Linked DNA regions of Homo sapiens: region 2 is linked to region 1. Evidence: fine-mapped QTL for protein levels in blood plasma. Region 1 holds a variant in brackets. A gene starts in the other region. All regions are shown on one strand. Distances are from middle to middle.

Region 1 (9,304 bases):
TCACCATGTTGGCCAGGCTGGTTTCGAACTCCTGACCTCAAGTGATCTGCCCGTCTCGGCCTCCCAAAGTGCTAGAATTACAGGCATGAACCACCGTGCCAGGTCTAATTTTTGTATTTTTAGTAGAGATGGGGTTTCACCATGTTGCCCAGGTTGGTCTCGAACTCCTAACCTCAAGTGATCTGCCCTCCTCATCCTCCCAAAGTGCAGGGATTACAGGTGTCAGCCACTGCATCTGGCCTGGGCACAGTTTTTCAGTGGGAGCCCAGAGGGCACTGATGCCCTCATTTCTCCTTACCAATATCAAGGATGAGAAGAGGGGTCCAAGCAAAGAGACTAACGGTGGGGAAGTGGGCAGCCAGTAGACAGCTGGGCCCAGACCTGTTCTTCCCCCCAACATCCTTCCCCTCTCCTCTTCTCTTTACAATTTAACTTTTTTCTTTTTTTGAGACAGGGTCTCACTCTGTTGCCCAGCCTGGAGTGCAGTGGTATGATCATGGCTCACTGTAGCCTCAGCCTCCTGGGTTCAGGTGATTCTCCTGCTTCAGCCTCATGAGTAGCTGGGACTACAGGTGCTCACCATCACACCCAGCTAATTATTATTATTATTATTTTTTGAGGCAGAGTTTCATTCTTGTTGCCCAGGCTGGAGTGCAATGGCATGATCTCGGCTCACTGCAACCTCTGCTTCCCAGGTTCAAGCGATTCTCCTGCCTCAGCCTCCCGGGTAGCTGGGATTACAGGCATGAGCCACCATGCCCGGCTAATTTTGTATTTTTAGTAGAGACGGGTTTCTCCATGTTGGTCAGGCTGGTCTCGAACTTCCAACCTCAGGTGATTCACCTGCCTTGGCCTCCCAAAGTGCTGGGATTACAGGCGTGAGCCACTGAGCCCAGCCTGCTATTGTTTTTTAATTTTAATTTTTTGTAGAGATGAAGCTTTTGCCATGTTGCCCAAGCTGGTCTTGAACTCCTGGGCTCAGGTGATCCACCCACCTTGGCCTCTCAGCGTTGGGATTACAGGCCTGAGCCACTGCACTTGGCCTACAGTTTAATATTTTAAACCATTTTTTCCTTCATTATAGAAAAGTTCAAACAAACACAGAAATAGGATAGTATGATAAACTCCACTAGCCAGCACCTAGCATCAACAATTAGCAATAGTTAATCAGATTTCCCCTGAAGACCTCCACTGTCCTACTATTGGATGATTTTGAAGTAAATCCTACCTAGACTTATTTGGAAATACTTTATTATGTCTCTAAAACATAAGGATGTATTGTAACAAAATCTTTCAAAGCTAAAACTCCTATCATCTGCAAACCTTTGGGTAAATCCATTAATACATGGCTCAGATGAGCAAACCAGTGCAGTGGTTGCTGAAAACTGTAGGCCAGATGGGGCTGGTGGTCTTGGAGCCACTGGAATGAGGGCACGTGTGTTAAAAATACAGATCCCCAGCCGGTGCCTTGGGTCACGCCTGTAACCCCAGCACTATGGGAGGCTGAGGAGCGAGGATCACTCCAGGCTGGGAGTTTGAGACCAGCCTGGTCAACACAGGGAGAATCCCGTCTCTACAAAAAATATCGGGCTTGGTGGCGCACACCTGTAGTCCCAGCTACTTAGGAGGCCAAGGCGGGAGGATCGCTTGAGCCCGGGAGTTCAAAGCTTCAGTGCGTTATGAGTTTGCCTGTGAATAGCCACTGAACTCCAGACTGGGCTACAGGGCGAGACCCTGTCGAAAAAAAAAAAAAAAGGAAAGAAAAGAAAGAAAGGAAGGAAGGAAGAAAAAGAAAGAAAGAAAAGAAAAGAAAGAAAGAGAAAGAAAGAAAAGAAAGAAAGAACGAAAGAAAGAAAGAAAAAGAAAGAAAGAAAGAAAGAAAGAAAGAAAGAAAGAAAGAAAGAAAGAAAGAAAGAAAGAAAGAGAGAAAAAGAAAGAAAAAGAAAAGACAGACCCCAAAAATCCCCAAATAGATCCCTCGACTGAGCTCTGGGGACCCGTACTGAAGAGGTCTGGGTAGGACCTCCCCGCCTCCTCAGGGGAGTAAGCGGCGTGGGCCGTGCCAGCGGGGGTGACCCCGGGGGCTGTGTATGGGTGGGGGCGCACCCCGAACTGAGCCCACGGGGCGCTGTCCCGCCTGCAGATGTTCGGGCAGCGGCGCAGCGCGCAGGCGTTGGAGCTGGCGCACATGCTGTACTATCGCAGTACGTCCAACAACTCGGAGCTGCTCAGCGCCCTGGCCCTGCGCGCGCAGGACGAGCACACCAAGGAGGCGCTGCTGGCTCACAGCTTCCTGGCCCGGCGGCCAGGGGGCACTCAAGGCTCGCCCGAAGGTAGGACGTGGCCCTGGGACCCTGCCCCCAGGGGCCACACCCCCGCGAGGCCCCGCCCCAGCGAGATGCGTCCCCACCCCCAGTTCCCACGGGTGAACCTGACGGGTTTGCGAAGAGACCCCGGCCCTCAGCAGACAGGACCTCCGAATCCAGACTCCGATCTTGGTGCCTGATGTGACAGCCCTTTCTTAACCTCAGCCTGGTTGGGAGTCTTGGCTCCATGGCACGGCCCCCTCCTGTCATTCTTTCCTCTACCTGAGCTGACACTCTCCCTACAAGAGATCCTGCGCGCTCCCTGTGTGGGCTCCAGGTGGTCCCCTTGCCTACAGGAGCCCCCACCTTCCCTGCCCAAGAGCCCCTGACTGGTCCCCAGACGAAAGCCCCAGAGCTGGGCCTTCTGGCCCTCTCGACCCTCCTGGGCCTTGTTCCGCTCCCCTCCAAGCCTCAAGATCACTCCTAGGCTTCTCCCAAACCCAGGCCCTTCCTGTTCTTTGCCCTACGCCCCTCCTTGCTGCTCCCTCGAATCTTCCCCGATCTCAGTGTGACCTCAGAACACCTGCCTCTCCCCTTGCAGAGACCTCCAGGTGGCTCCGGTCGGAGGTGGAGAACTGGCTCCTAGCCAAGTCAGGCTGTGAGGTGACCTTCAACGGAACTCGGGCCCTGGCGCATCTGCAGGCCCTGACCCCCAGCATGGGATTGTACCCACCCCCGGGTTTCCCCAAACTAGACCCAGTGGCTCCGATCACTTCCGAGCCCCCGCAAGCCACGCCCAGCAGTAACATCTCCTGAGTAGAACCTACCTCCCTGCCCAGTCAGCAGGCTAGGAACTAAGCCCCGCCTCCTTCACGACAGGCTGTCAATTACGGTTATTATACTTTTCACTCCAACTTCCAATAACTGACAGGTGATTATTTTTGCTGCACTGTGTGCTTAAGCAAAGCAGCCAATCAAAGCAGCTAGCAGTTGTTAAGTCTTCCCCGCCCCTTCGATGAACAGCCAATCAAAGCGATTTAGCTCTGCTTCTGTTCCATTTCTTAGTCCCACCCTCACCATAAACATCCAAGTGTGGTTTGGCTGAGGAGCTGAGGGTGTCTGCCAATCACAGCTGCTCAGCTCTGGCTTCTGTAAACCGCCAGGTAGAAGAGTTAAAGCTGCGCCCTCCCGAGACTATATATCATTGTCTTTTTCAGCCCGCTCCGGGCAAACTGCCCATCATGTGCACCAAGGCCGTTAGCCCTGCCTCCTGGCAAACGTCCAGTGACAGCTGCTGGGTTCCATCAACTTTGGGCAGCCGGTTGTCGCTGCAGGGAAGGAACCAATAAGAATTTCTAAAGGAAACCTGATCTTGCTATCAATTGCTGCTGCTTAAATGGCAGGCCAACTGGTCAGCTGCTGATCAGGGTGTCTAGGCTGAAGGAGTTGGAGACCTTGTGCTAGGTAGGTGAACCAGAAACCACCCTCGCCACCAAGACTCGCTCCCAACCTGGCTCCCGGCAACCTCAGGTGCCTTCCTCGCCCAGGTCTTTCACCCTTTCTACAGAAACTACCTCGGTCTGGATCTCCCCACCACCAGCAGCCTGTGCAATATTTATTGGTCTATCAATTTCTCCCGTCTCCTGTCCCAAAGTAATAAATCATGTTTAATAAGTCTGGATGAGGCTACTCTTAACGCACTGCCTTTAGGGTAACCCTGCTCTGTAGGAGTGGTTAAAAAATTATTTTTAAAAATCTAGATGAGTGGGATGGCTGCAGGAGTTGGAGGGAAGGAAAGCATTTGAATCCTGGAAAGAGGGGAGGGACTCTAGCTAGGTCTTGGGGTCCCAGACAGAGAAAGCTGTAGTCCTAAAAAGAGGCTGGGTTCATGGTCGGTGAAACAAAGACAGTCATAGAAGAGGATCTTAGAAGGATCTGATTCCAGAGGAGTCCCAGGGCCTGATGAACAGAGGAGATAGCGTAGCCATGTGCGATTGTGCAGATTTGCAGATTTTTTTTTGTTCTTGAGATGGAGTTTCGCGCTTGTTGCCCAGGCTGGAATGCAATGGCATGATCTTGGCTCACTGCAACCTCCGCCTCCTGGGTTCAAGTGATTCTCCTGCCTCAGCCTCCCGAGTAGCTGGGAGGCGCCTGCCACCGCGCCTGGCTAATTTTTTGTATTTTCAGTAGAGACGGGGTTTCACCATGTTGGCCAGGCTGGTCTCGAACTCCTGACCTCAGGTGATCCACCTGCCTCAGCCTCCCAAAGTACTGGGATTACAGGCGTGAGCCACCGCACCCGGCCTGTGCAGATTGTTAACTGCACAAAGGAACACAGCCACGGGTGGGTGGCTGTAAGACCCAGCCCATACCCCTACATGTATCCTGGTGTGGGGCTGGGTCAGCCAGAAGAAGGGGTGCCTCCTAATTTTTGCTAACGTGTCATATGGGCTAGAGGCAGCCTTTGGGGAGACAGGGGAAGTCTCCCTCTCTAGGACCCCAAATGTTCAGTCCCTAGAGAGGGAGACTGGGCTGGGCGCGGTGGCTCCCGCCTGTAATCCCAGCACTTTGGGAGGCTGAGGTGGGTGGATCACCTGAGGTCAGGAGTTCAAGACCAGCCTGGCCAACATGGTGAAACCCCGTGTCTACTAAAGATACAAAAATTAGCCGGACGTGGTGGTGGGCGCCTGTAATCCCAGCTGCTCAGGAGGCTGAGGCAGGAGAATTGCTTGAACCCGGGAGGCGGAGGTTGCAGTGAGTGAAGATCGCACCACTGCACTACAGCCTAGGTGACAGAGCGAGACTCCGTCTCAAAAAAAAAAAAAAAAAAAAAAAAGAGAGAGAGGGAGACTGGTTTCCTAGAGGGAAAAAGAAAGCTGTCTTCCCAAATGGAAAGTTAGTAGAAAGAAAAAAGAGTCCAGAACTAGCCGGGTGTGGTGGCTCGTGCCTGTAGTCCCAGCTACTCGGGAGGCTGAGGCAGGAGAATCGCTTCAACCCGGGAGGCGGAGGTTGCAGTGAGCTGAGATCGTACCACTGCACTCCAACCTGGACAGAAAGAAAAAAAGAGTCCGACAATCTAGAAACACACACTATGCCCGGGGTTCAGAGAGAGAGAGCAACAGAGTGACAGAAGCTTGAGCAAGGAGACAGGACTGGTCACTGCAGGCTTCCTATCCTAACAGGGTCTGCTGGGACCCAGAATCCAGGTTCTTCCCAGAAGTGTCTGAAGGTCTAGATTCAGGTGCCTCACAGAGGTCTCTTGGGCCTTGAGCGGGGAAGGCCCAGGCTCTTGGGTCTGTGGGAGGGAAAAGGTGCCTGGGGTCCCGGCTCCTGTGTCCTCGGGAGGAAGGGGTTGGGGGCTGGGAGATGGGCATTCTGAGGGCTGAGCAGCTGGCGGTGGGGACCATGTTAGGTTCAGGAGAGGTCAAGCGTGCGCAGCCTGGGTCCCTGGAGGCGGAAGGAAGGAAGATCAAGGCAGAGCCCGCGGTTAAGGTTTTATTTTTTGGAGGACGCGCGGCGAGGGGGGCCGGGAAGGGGCGGGGGCAGCCGAGCGAGGCGGGGCGCTCACTCCCGCTTCCGTAGGTGGATGTAGATGATGCCGCTGACCAGGGCGAGGGGGAAGGCCACCCAGGCCAGGGCGAAGCAGTATCCGAAGCTGCCCCCTCGCGGGTGCTTCTCCAGGA[T/C]CTCCTCGGCGTGAATGGCATAGATCAAGGCGCCAGTAAACACCGCCACGCCTGCGGAAGATGAAAACCACACGTCATGCAGTGCCCCCTCAAGACTACATTTCCCAATATCCCATGGGGGCAAAGAAGCGCCGGAGGGCCCGTGGGCAGCGCCGCTGCCTGCTGGGAGTTGTGGTTCTTTCCCCCCCGCCCAGCGCCGTGCAACTGTAGCGCGGCCTTAGGTAACTGATTTAATCTCTCTAGGTCCAATAATATCTCTCTATCCATCCAAGGAATATTTTTGAGTGTGTTTCTATAAGCCAAACATGCAGTAGTAAATTCATAAACCAAGAGAGAAGCTTTGCAAGAACCTATAATGTTCCCCAAACTGACTGTGATTAAGTTAGCCCTTTGCACCTTAAGTCAAAAAATTAAAAAGTACGCAAAACTTCTTGAAGTATCTGATGCACAATAGGCACGCAAGAAACAGCGGTTGGCTGATATAAATACCATTATTATTATGATTTAGAGCTCTCTACTGAGGTACTAATTAGTTTATCCCCCCACGTCACGGCCGATCCCTGGGACCAAAACTATTTACCTATACCTCCTTCCCCAGCCCCGGCTCCCTGAAACTCTGAGTTCCCTGATGACTCATACGCACAAGCCATAACTATCATTAGCCACTGAAAACTACAAGTCCCAGCAATCCCTGGGGGCAGAGATGTAGCCCACGGAGGCACCTCTTGTGGCTCGTGGGGTGTTGAAAGTTGTTTTTTTCTACGAGAGGCCCATTCTCAGGGCCCCCAGCATCTTGACACACCCCACTCCCTTCTGCTCAATTCTTGGGGGATTAGGGTTGGGGAGGGGCAGTGCTCACTGGTGCAAAGCTGGCAGAGGCCGGTGGCATAGAAGAGACCTCCTCGTCGCATGGTGTAGAGCTGGAACATGAACAGGATGAAGGAGAGACAGCAGAGAATGAGGGAGAGCACCATGAGGACCTGCACCGCCTTCAGCCAGCCTGCAGTAAGGAGGACACAGAGGGGGACATCACCGTGGGTCCAGAGTTCCAGCTTCACCTGCTTGCTCACCATGTGACCCTTCTCTGCCCCATCCCTGCTCCCGTTTAGGCCCATACAAGCCTAGATACTTAGATGTATCACTTATTTTGACCTTGAGCCCTGTTACCTTGCTATATTCCCTTCTCAGTTCTAGTAGTTGCTTTGCCAATTTCCTTTTTCTTTTTTTTCTGAAACCAGGTCTTGCTCTGTTGCCCAAGCTGGAGTGCAGTGGTATAATCATGGCTCACTGCAGCCTCGTCCTTCAGGGCTCAAGAAATTCTCTCACCCCTGCCTCCTGAGTAGCTGGGACCACAGGCACAAGCCACCACAACCTGGGTAATTTTTAAATTTTTGTAGAGACAGGGTTTCCCTATGTTGTCCAGGCTGGTCTTGAACTCCTGGGCTTAAGTGATCCTTCCTCCTCAGCCTCCCAAGGTGCTGGGATTACAGGTGTGAGCCACTGTGTCTGTCTGCTTTGCAGAATTTTAATGGATTTTCTACATAAACAACATGTTTACTGGGAATAGAGACACTTTTTCCTAATTTATTTCCCATGCCCTTTATTTCTTTTTCTTGCCTTCTTGCATTGGCTACTCCAGTAAAAGGTTGAATAGAAGTGGTGAGAGCAGACCACTTCCTTTAATCTTAGTTTTGCATTAAATCTTTCACACAGAACTTTAGATAGATGCAGCTCTATTCCTTTAGAACTCCAATGCACCTGGCCCCACCCCTTTAGAACCTTAAGTGGTTTCAGCCCCATCCCCTTGGAATTTGGATGAAATGGTCCCAGGCATCCATTCAGAGCACCAGCCCCATCTCCTTAGAGCTTTGGAAAAATACTCTTGTCTTCTCAGAATCTTGGGAGATTTTTCTCTATTCTTTTTTTTTTTTTTTTTTTTTGAGACAGAATCTTGCTCTGTTGCCCAGGCTGGAGTGCAGTAGTGCAATCTCAGCTCACTGCAACCTCCACCTCCTGGGTTCAAGCGATTCTTCTGCCTCAGCCTCCCAAGTAGCTGGGACTACAGGCGCACGCCACCATGCCCGGCTAATTTTTTTGTATTTTTAGTAGAGACGGGGTTTCATCATCTTGGCCAGGCTGGTCTCGAACTCCTGGCCTCGTGATCTACCCGCCTTGGCCTCCCCTCTCTATTCTTTAAACCTATAGCATGCTTTTATCTATATGGCCTCTTCAGAACAGGAGGTACTGGCTGGATGTGGTGGCTCACGCCTGTAATCTCAGCACTTTGGGAGGCTGAAGCAGGTGGATTAGCTGAAGTCAGAAGTTCAAGACCAGCCTGGCCAACATGGTGAAACCTGTCTCTACTAAAAATGCAAAATTAGCCAGGCGTGGTGGCACACACCTGCAGTCCCAGCTACTCGGGAGGCTGAGGCAGGAGAATTGCTCGGACCCCGGAGGGAGAGGTTGCAGTGAGCCAAGATTGCGCCACTGCACTCCAGCCTGGGCAACCAGAGGAAAACTCGGTCTCAAAAAACAAAAACAAAAAAAACAAGAGGTAGGTACATCCAGACAGGCGGGACATGCATTAGCCCTAGGCACTCAGCCACTCAGGCCTGGACCCCGCCCACTCCAACTTTGTTGGGGGAGGGTTCCCAATTCTCAGTCCCATGAGGACACGAAGGGTTTACCTTCCCCTTTGAAGACCAGTCCCGCCGCCCTCACCCCTCACCATTCTCGCTGACATTACTGCAGGCCCATGTTTTGGTGTCGTTGTTCCACGTGCAGTCGTACCAGAGATTCAGGGACTCTTTCCCAGGGAGAGTCCACCAGGACTGGGATGGACAGAGAACGAAACAAGGGGCAGGGTTAGGAAAGGAGAGGGGATAGGGTCAGGCAGACTGTGGGAAGGGCTGGGAAAAGGGCAGGGTATCTGGGATGGGGCAGAACTGGGGAGAGTTAGGATTTAATATGAGAGGGGGTAGGGTCAGGACAGGGAGGAGGCATCGGAGGTAGAGCTAAAAGGGTTAACCTGGTGGTTCATGCCTGTAATCCCAGCACTGTGGGAGGCCGAGGCAGGTGGATCACTTGAGGCCAGGGGTTCGAGACCAGCCTGGGCAACATGGTGAAACCCCGTCTCTACCAAAATAAAAAAATTAGCCGGGCTTGGTGGCAGGTGCCTCTAATCCCAGCTACTTGGGGGGCTGAGACAGGAGAATCGCTTGAACCCGGGAGGCCGAGGTTGCAGTGAGCCGAGATCGCACCACTGCACTCCAGCCTGGGGGACAGAGTGAGACCCTTGTCTCAAAATAAATGAAA
Region 2 (8,149 bases), 30 Mb after region 1:
CCCTTAAACCTTGATTCCATACAACACATATTTCTGTGAGCTCGAGGTTGGGGCTAAAGTTACAGATTAACAGCATCTCAGGGCAAAGCAATTGTTCAGGGTATGGGTCAAAATGAAGTTTTTTATGTCTTCCTTTTCTACATAGACACAGTAACAGTCTGATCGCTTTTTCTTTTCCCTACATCCCAGACCCCAGGACTACCAAACTCCAGGGCCCCCAGACTGCAGGACCCCCAGATCCCAAGACTCCCAGACCTCTGGATCCCCAGACTTCAGAACCACCAGACCCCTGGACCCCCAGACCCCAAGACTCTCAGACATCTGGATCCCCAGACCCCTATACCCCCCCACCAAACCCCCATATCCCAAGACCCCTAGATCCCAGGACCCCCAAACCTCCGGATCCTCAGACTTTAGGACCCCCAGACCTCAGGACCCTTAGATTCCAGGACTCTCAGACCCCTGGATCCCCAGACCTCAGAGTCCCCAAATCTCAGGACCCCACAGACCTCAGACTCCAAGGCCCCCGGCTCCCCCAGACCCACCTCCAAAACTCACTATCCCAGACCCCAGGCCTGCCTGTCCCCCACCACCTGCAGCCTCGGGTCTGGCACTTCCTCATTTCTTTATTTCCTTTTTTTCTAAGAGGCCTCAGAACTGGGCGTGGAGGACGTGCAGCTGCATGAGGCTCACTGCTGGCTGGGCTCCTCCATCCCTCTGCTCCTTATAAAAGAGGCCCCAAGAGCTCCCCTGCTCCCTCTGCTGTCTACTGAGGACACAGTGAGAAGACGGTCATCTGCAAACTAGGAAGTGAATCTGCTGGTGCCTTGATCTTGGACTTCCCAGCTTCCGGAACTGTTGTTCATAAGCTACCCCAGTTTACGGCATATTTGTTATAGCAGCCTGAACAAACATTTGGAGACATCTGCTCTCTACCCAGGGCTGCTCCCACCACAGGGCCTTTGCACATGCTGTTCCCACTCCTGGATGCTGTTCCCCACATCCCTTCCTCCTTACTCCCTAAGGGGTTCCTTGATCATCCCATTGAAAAGTTGCTTCTGCGGCCAGGCTCAGTGGCTCACGCCTGTAATCCCAACACTCTGGGAGGCTGAGGAGGGTGGATCACCTGAGGTCAGGAATTCGGGACCAGCCTGGCCAACATGGTGAAACCCCGTCTCTACTAAAAATACAAAAAGTTAACTGGGCATGGTCCCATGCGCCTGTAATCCCAGCTACTTGGGAGGCTGAGGCAGGAGAATCGCTTGAACCCGGGAGGTGGAGGTTGCAGTGAGCCGAGATCGCATCACTGCACTCCAGCCTGGGCAACAAGAGCAAAACTCCGTTTCAAATAAATAAATAAATAAATAAATAAATAAATAAATAAATAAAAGTTTCCCATCTCATTTCCTGCCCTTATTTTTCTTTGCAGCATTCCCACCACCTGCACTTGATATATTTTCCCGATGGATTCTGCCTGTTGTCTGTTTCCCCAACTACAGTGAGAGGTGGGGGGAGGGGGGGCTGGGATTTTTGTCTGTTTTATTCACTGCTGTGTCTGTGGTTCATAGTACCTGGTATACAACAGGAACTTCATAAAGGCTTACAGAGGAAATGAATGAGTCTTTCCTTATAGGTTCATAGAGATTTATAATTTCATTTTCAGAACTTTGTGGCATGCTAGGATGGATGAACTGAACTGTTACTAATGTAACCAATCCTTTAAGTTATTTCCTTTTTTTTTTTTTCCTTCTTCTTGAGGCAGAGGATCACTCTGCACTCTGTCACCCCAGGCTGGAGTGCAGTGGCACGATTTCAGCTCACTTCAACCTCTGCCTTCCAGACTCAAGCGATCCTCCTGCCTTAGGTTCCCGAGTAGCTGGAACTGTAAGGATGTGCCACCACTCCCAGCTAATTTTTGTGTGTGTGTATATCTATCTATATATATATATAAAAATTTTTTTTTTTGGTAGACATGGGGTTTCACCATATTGCCCAGGCTAGTCTTGAACTCCTGGGCTCAAGCGATCCTCCTATCTTGACCTCCCAAAGTGCTGGGATTACAGGCATGACTCACTGTGCCCGGCCCATTTTATTTTTTTTCATGTAACAAACAATGCTGCAATGAATCACTTTGAGCCTGGAGCATCTTTTTGCCTTCTCTCTCTCTCTCTTTTTTTTTTTTATATGAAGTCTCGCTCTGTCACCAGGCTGGAGTGCTGTGGCGCGATCTAGGCTTACTGCAACCTCCAACTCCCTGGTTCAAGTGATTTTCCTGCCTCAGCCTCCCGAGTAGCTGGGATTACAGGTACATGCCACCACGCCCAGCTAATTTTTTGTATTTTTGGTAGAGACAGGGTTTCACAGCGTTGGCCAGGATTGTCTCAGTCTCCTGACCTTGTGATCCGCCCACCTCAGCCTCCCAAAGTGCTGGGATTACAGGTGTGAGCCACCACGCCTGACTTTGCCTTCTCAAAAAAACAAACCTGCAACATACACACAACATAAAATTGAACATTTTAGCCAATTTATTTATTTATTATTATTATTTTGAGATGGAGTTTTGCTCTTGTTGCCCAGGCTGGAGTGCAGTGCCGTGATCTCGGCTCAACTGCAAACTCTACCTCCCAGGCTCAAGTGATTCTCCTGCCTCAGCCTCCCAAGTAGCTGGGATTACAGGCATGCGCCACCACACCCGGCTAATTTTGTGTATTTAGTAGAGATGGAGTTTCTCCACGTTGGTCAGGCTAGTCTCAAACTCTGGACCTCAGGTGATCCGCCCACCTCAGCCTCCCAAAGTGCTGGGATTACAGGCATGAGCCACCGCGGCCGGCCCAGCCATTTATTTTAAATTATTTTTTAGAGATAGGGTCTTGCTCTGCTGCATAGGCTGGAGTGGAGTGGCACAATCACGGCTCACTGCAGTCACAACCTTCTGGGCTCAAGGGATCCTCCCACCTCAGCCTCTGAAGTAGCTGGGACTACAGGCTGAAGCCACCATGCCCAGCTAATTTTTAAATTATTATTATTATTATTATTATTATTATTATTGAGATGGAGTCTCGCTCTAACGCCCAAACTGGAGTGCAGTGGCATGATCTCAGCTCACTGCAACCTCTGCCTCCTGGGTTCAAGCGATTCTCCTGCCTCAGCCTCCCTAGTAGCTGGGATTACAGGCACGTGCCACCATGCCCAGCTAATTTTTGTATTTTTAGTGGAGACGGGGTTTCACCATGTTGGCCAGGCTGGTCTGGTACTCCTGACCTCGTGATCCGCCCACCTTGGTCCCCCAAAGTGCTGGGATTACAGGCATGAGCCACCACGTCCAGGCTGAGCCACATTTTTTTATTCGTTAGTCAGTTCACACTGTAAACATGCAAATATTCAGGCAGGGATTCCCAGAAGTGGACTTGCTGTGTCAGCAGGCACATGAGTTTATCATTCCGGTGGCCTGTGCCAGGGTGCCCTCCACCAGTGCTACACCATGGACGCACCCCACAGCCTGGCTGGCACAGAATGTCATTGCATTGTTGGATTTTTGCCAATTTGATTGGTGAAGACAAACAGTTTGTGATTTGCAGTTTTCTTATTAAGTGTGAACTTTTTTTTTTTTTTGAGACAGGTCTCACTCTGTTGCCCAGGCTGGAATGCAGTGGAGTGATCTTGGCTCACTGCAGCCTCCACCTCCTGGGTTCAAACAATTCTCCTGCCTCAGCCTCCTGAGTAGCTGGGACTACAGGCACATACCACCACACCTGGCTAATTTTTGTATTTTTTAAAGTAGAGACGGGGTTTCACCATGATGGCCAGGCTGGTCTCGAACTCCTGGGCTCAAGCGATCTGCTCACTTCAGCCTCCCAAAGTGTTGGGATTACAGGTGTAAGCCACTGCACCTGGCAAGAATGAGCATCTCTGGACATGTTGAAAAGCAGTTTCCCGCTTTTTCTTCAAGGTCTCCGTTCAAAGCCTTTGACCATTTCTTGGAGTTTGGCGATGTGAAGGACAGAGGCCGAAAAGAGGGGAAAACGTGGGGGAGTGGACTCCCAGCCTCCCAGATCCCGGAGAAGCCTCTGTGCATTTGACAGCTGTGGACATGGTGTCACACGCAGTTAAGGTGGCACAGTGAGTCGGGCTGGCATAGGTTGTACCTGGTCCACCTGACACCAGGTTCAGGTGAGGCCTTCTCCCAGCCCACCCCTCCTCAGTATCATTTTTGTCACTACTACCCCTCCAGTCTGCCTCAGGCCCCCATCTGCTTCTGGGACCTCAGCCTCCTCCCCAAGTTGCCCACCCCAGACACCAGGCTCACTCCAGAGGGACTTCTTGAGCCAGTGCCCCTCTGCCCACGCACCTGCCTTGGCTCCACATGGACCTCTTCCCCCACCACCAATTCCTTCTATCCTCTCCACTCCTAACCATGCTATCCCAGCCAGCTACATTTTCCCAAGCTGCTGGGAGCCCTCCTCACTGTCCCCTCCAGCATAGAGGTGCCACTGTGCAAGAACTCAGTGGGAGAGGCTTGGAGGAGCTTGGAGAGCCAATGATAGGTTTGGGGAATCTTAGTGAACTCCTACTCATGCGTTGAAGCCCCAACTGTAATGCCTCCTCCTCCAGGAAGCCTTCCAGGACCCTGTCTTTCCCTCTGGACCTTCCTTAACTGCATGGGACTAGGAGTGTCTATGTCCAGCTCTGTCCTCTCTTAAGATAGCTCCTTGAGGACCTGGTCAGGGCTGAGGCCTCTTGGGGGCCCAGCGTGGGTGATGCTTGTTGAATGAATAAATGACTGCATGAGCTGGGAACCAGCCAAGCTGAGATCAAGAAGCGAGTTGATGAGGTGGCAGTCGGTTGGGGTGCTAATAGAGGACATGAAGTCACTGGGTTCTAGCAAGAGGGAAGCGGGACTCTGGTCCACCCCTCCCTCTTGCCCTCCATCCACCTCTGGTGAGAACCTTGAGGCCCTGCAAGGGGGCGGATCTCTGTCTTCATTCTTCCCCTCTGCACTCCACCCAGACACCAGTTCCTCTTCCCCCTGAGTCGCTGGGTGCAGAGCCAGAGGAACGCCAGCGACCCCAGCAGCGCTGCGGACGGTGCTGGCCGTGGCCGCTGCGGCCCCCGTGTCCAGGTGGGCCAGGACGCAGCCTCTGGGCGCCGTCGCTTTTCCAGCATCGCAGAGGCAAAAGCGTGGCAGTGGGACCCAAAAGGTAGGACTGAGGCTCTAGAACTTGCACCTGTGCAGGGACTGCAAACCAGACCTGGGAGGACCCTTTCAGCAGCCCCCACTCCACCCTATCCCAGGACTTCCCAGCGACCCGCCGTTCTGGGAGATACCGGGAGCGTGATCAGGGGGCGGGGCCGTTTCCAAGGCAACCGCTTATTTGCATAGGGTCCCGTCCTGGCCAACGAGGGCGCCCCAAATGTTCAGGACATAGAAGAAGGGGTTAACTGGCCCGGATCTCCTCCTCGCCTTCCAAGCCCGCTAAGCACTGGGGTTATCTACCCATTCCCCAGAAGGGGAGACTGAGGCAGCCCACCAGCCAAAGGAGGCGACCAGACTGGGGCTGCGTTTTACCATTTCAGAAGCGGCTTGAGCTGGTCTGAGCTATAATAATAAACACTGGCGGTGGAGGCGAGGGCGACCACAGGGCTGAGGTCAGGGCTAGGATTCCGGTGTCTCTACGTAGGTTGCTTGAATGGGGGGCACCCTGGCATGGACGCTGCTGTTGCCGCTGCTGCTGCGGGAGTCAGACAGCCTAGAACCGTCGTGCACCGTGTCCTCCGCGGATGTGGACTGGAACGCGGAGTTCAGTGCCACGTGCCTGAATTTCAGTGGCCTCAGCCTGAGCCTGCCTCACAACCAGTCTCTGCGGGCCAGCAACGTGATTCTCCTTGACCTGTCTGGGAACGGCCTGCGAGAGCTTCCAGTGACCTTCTTTGCCCACCTGCAGAAGCTTGAGGTCCTGAACGTGCTACGCAACCCCTTGTCTCGTGTGGATGGGGCGCTGGCCGCCCGCTGTGACCTTGACCTGCAGGCCGACTGCAACTGTGCCCTGGAGTCCTGGCACGACATCCGCCGAGACAACTGCTCTGGCCAGAAGCCTCTGCTCTGCTGGGACACAACCAGCTCCCAGCACAACCTCTCTGCCTTCCTGGAGGTCAGCTGCGCCCCTGGCCTGGCCTCTGCAACTATCGGGGCAGTGGTGGTCAGCGGGTGCCTGCTTCTTGGACTTGCCATCGCTGGCCCTGTGCTGGCCTGGAGACTCTGGCGATGCCGAGTGGCCAGAAGCCGGGAGCTGAACAAACCCTGGGCTGCTCAGGATGGGCCCAAGCCCGGTTTAGGCTTGCAGCCACGGTACGGCAGCCGGAGCGCCCCCAAGCCCCAAGTGGCCGTGCCATCCTGCCCCTCCACTCCCGACTATGAGAACATGTTTGTGGGCCAGCCAGCAGCCGAGCACCAGTGGGATGAACAAGGGTAAGTAAGCCACTGAGACACCTGCCAAAGTGGTGAATAATAAGGCTCCACACCCAGATGGCCGAGGTTCAAATCCCAGCTCTGCCGCTTGAAGGCTGTGGGATCTTAGGTGAGTAGCTTTACTTCTCTGAGCCTCAGTCTCCTCACCTATAAAATGGGGAGAGGACTGGACATGGTGGCTCACACCTGTAATCCTAGCACTTTGGGAGGCCAAGGCAGGCGGATCACTTGAAGTCAGGAGTTTGAGACCAGCCTGGCCAACACGGTGAAACCCAGTCTGTACTAAAAATACAAAAATTAGCCAGGTGTGGTGGCGGGCGCCTGTGGTTCCAGCTACTGAGGAGGCTGAGGCAAGAGAATCTCTTGAACCTGGGAGTCAGAGGTTGCAGTGAGCCAAGTTCATGCCATTGCACTCCAGCCTGGGTGACAGAGTGAGACTCCATCTCAAAAATAAAATCAATAAAATAAAGTAAAATGAGGGAGAATTACAGCCCCCATCATAGTGTGTTGGGGTAAGAATTAAGTGAGTTCCCATATATGGGACAAACTTCCCCCCCTTATGACCTGTAAACCCAGTTTCTGGCGGCCAAGGATGGGGAGACAGGAGGCAACTGCTTGAGCGGAGTTGGGGCTCCGCGGTGGCGGTCAGCAGCATAGGCCCAGGTCCCATGTGACCCAAGGCTGTCTCTGAACCTCCATTTCTGTCTCCATAGAGTGGGGACAGCCCCCCATTTCCCCATGACACACATGAGATACTAAAGAGGTGCCCTACAAAGTCCCATCACCACTAGATGATTTTTTTTTTTTTTTTTTTGAGATGGAGTCTGGCCCTGTCATCCAGGCTAGAGTGTAGTGACACGATCTCGGCTCACTGCCAGCTCCGCCTCCCGGGTTCATGCCATTCTCCTGCCTCAGCCTCCCGAGTAGCTGGGACTACAGGCGCCCGCCACCACGCCAGGCTAATTTTTTGTATTTTTAGTAGAGACGGGGTTTCACCGTGTTAGCCAGGATGGTCTCGATCTCCTGACCTCGTGATCCGCCCACCTCAGCCTCCTTAAGTGCTGGGATTACAGGTGTGAGCCACCGCGCCCAGCCGACATTTTTTTTTGAGACAGTGTCATTCTGTCGCCCTGGCTGGAGTGCAGTGGCACCATCACAGATCACTGCAGCCTCAAGCTCCTGGCCTCAAGTGATCCTCCTGCCTCAGTCTCCAGAGTAGTTGGGACCACAGGCACATGCCGCCGCACCCAACTAATTTTTGTATTTTTCATAGAGACGGGGGTCTTGCTATATTTCTCAGGCTGGTCTCAAACTCTTGGCCTCAAGTGATCCTCATGTCTTAGCCTCCCAAAGTGCTGGCATTATGGGTGTGAGCCACCGCCACCGGCTTCTGGATGATTTTGCTGGGCTTAGACAAATGAGTTGAACTTTTCTAGGTTGGTGTGGGGTGCGGTGGCTCATGCCTATAATCCCAGCACTTTTCGAGGCCAAGGCGAGGTCAGATCACCTGTGGTCAGGACCTCAAGACCAGCCTGACCAACATGGTGGAACCCTGTTTCTACTAAAAAATACAAAAATTAGGCCGGGCACGGTGGCTCATGCCTGTAATCCCAACACTTTGGGAGGCCAAGGCAGGAGGATCACGAGGTCAGGAGTTCGAGACCAGCCTGGCCAATATGGTGA

Which allele goes with the higher level. Positions count from the first base shown, and alleles are read on the strand shown. Strength reflects both the effect of a copy and how common the allele is.
With allele C in place of T in region 1, the plasma level of the protein whose gene starts at base 5,029 in region 2 is lower (moderate association).

The links. PIP is the posterior inclusion probability: the model's chance that the variant is causal. Protein levels are from antibody-based Olink assays in UK Biobank. Linkage for the fine-mapping came from a reference panel and not from the study's own genotypes, which makes the PIPs less certain.
Region 2: it holds the start of LRRC25, and the variant in region 1 is fine-mapped to the plasma level of the LRRC25 protein (UK Biobank, PIP above 0.99).

The regions. Positions count from the first base shown.
Region 1 is chr19:48,327,037-48,336,340 of GRCh38, reverse strand. It overlaps EMP3 (epithelial membrane protein 3 (MAM blood group)), which reads right to left. Exons shown (of 5, transcript NM_001425.3): 3 at 8,718-8,820; 4 at 6,849-6,989; 5 at 5,788-6,040. The coding sequence ends at 5,871. It overlaps TMEM143 (transmembrane protein 143), which reads left to right. Exons shown (of 8, transcript NM_018273.4): 7 at 2,144-2,333; 8 at 2,908-3,985. The coding sequence ends at 3,122. Among named protein-coding and RNA genes, the nearest start is that of EMP3, 6.1 kb to the right of the region's middle. RefSeq lists a silencer at 1,948-2,467 and enhancers at 2,808-2,857, 2,868-2,957, 2,348-3,083, 6,790-6,939. The variant T/C (reference allele first, on the strand shown) is at 5,990.
Region 2 is chr19:18,394,502-18,402,650 of GRCh38, reverse strand. It overlaps LRRC25 (leucine rich repeat containing 25), which reads left to right and starts at 5,029. Exons shown (of 2, transcript NM_145256.3): 1 at 5,029-6,466. The coding sequence starts at 5,688.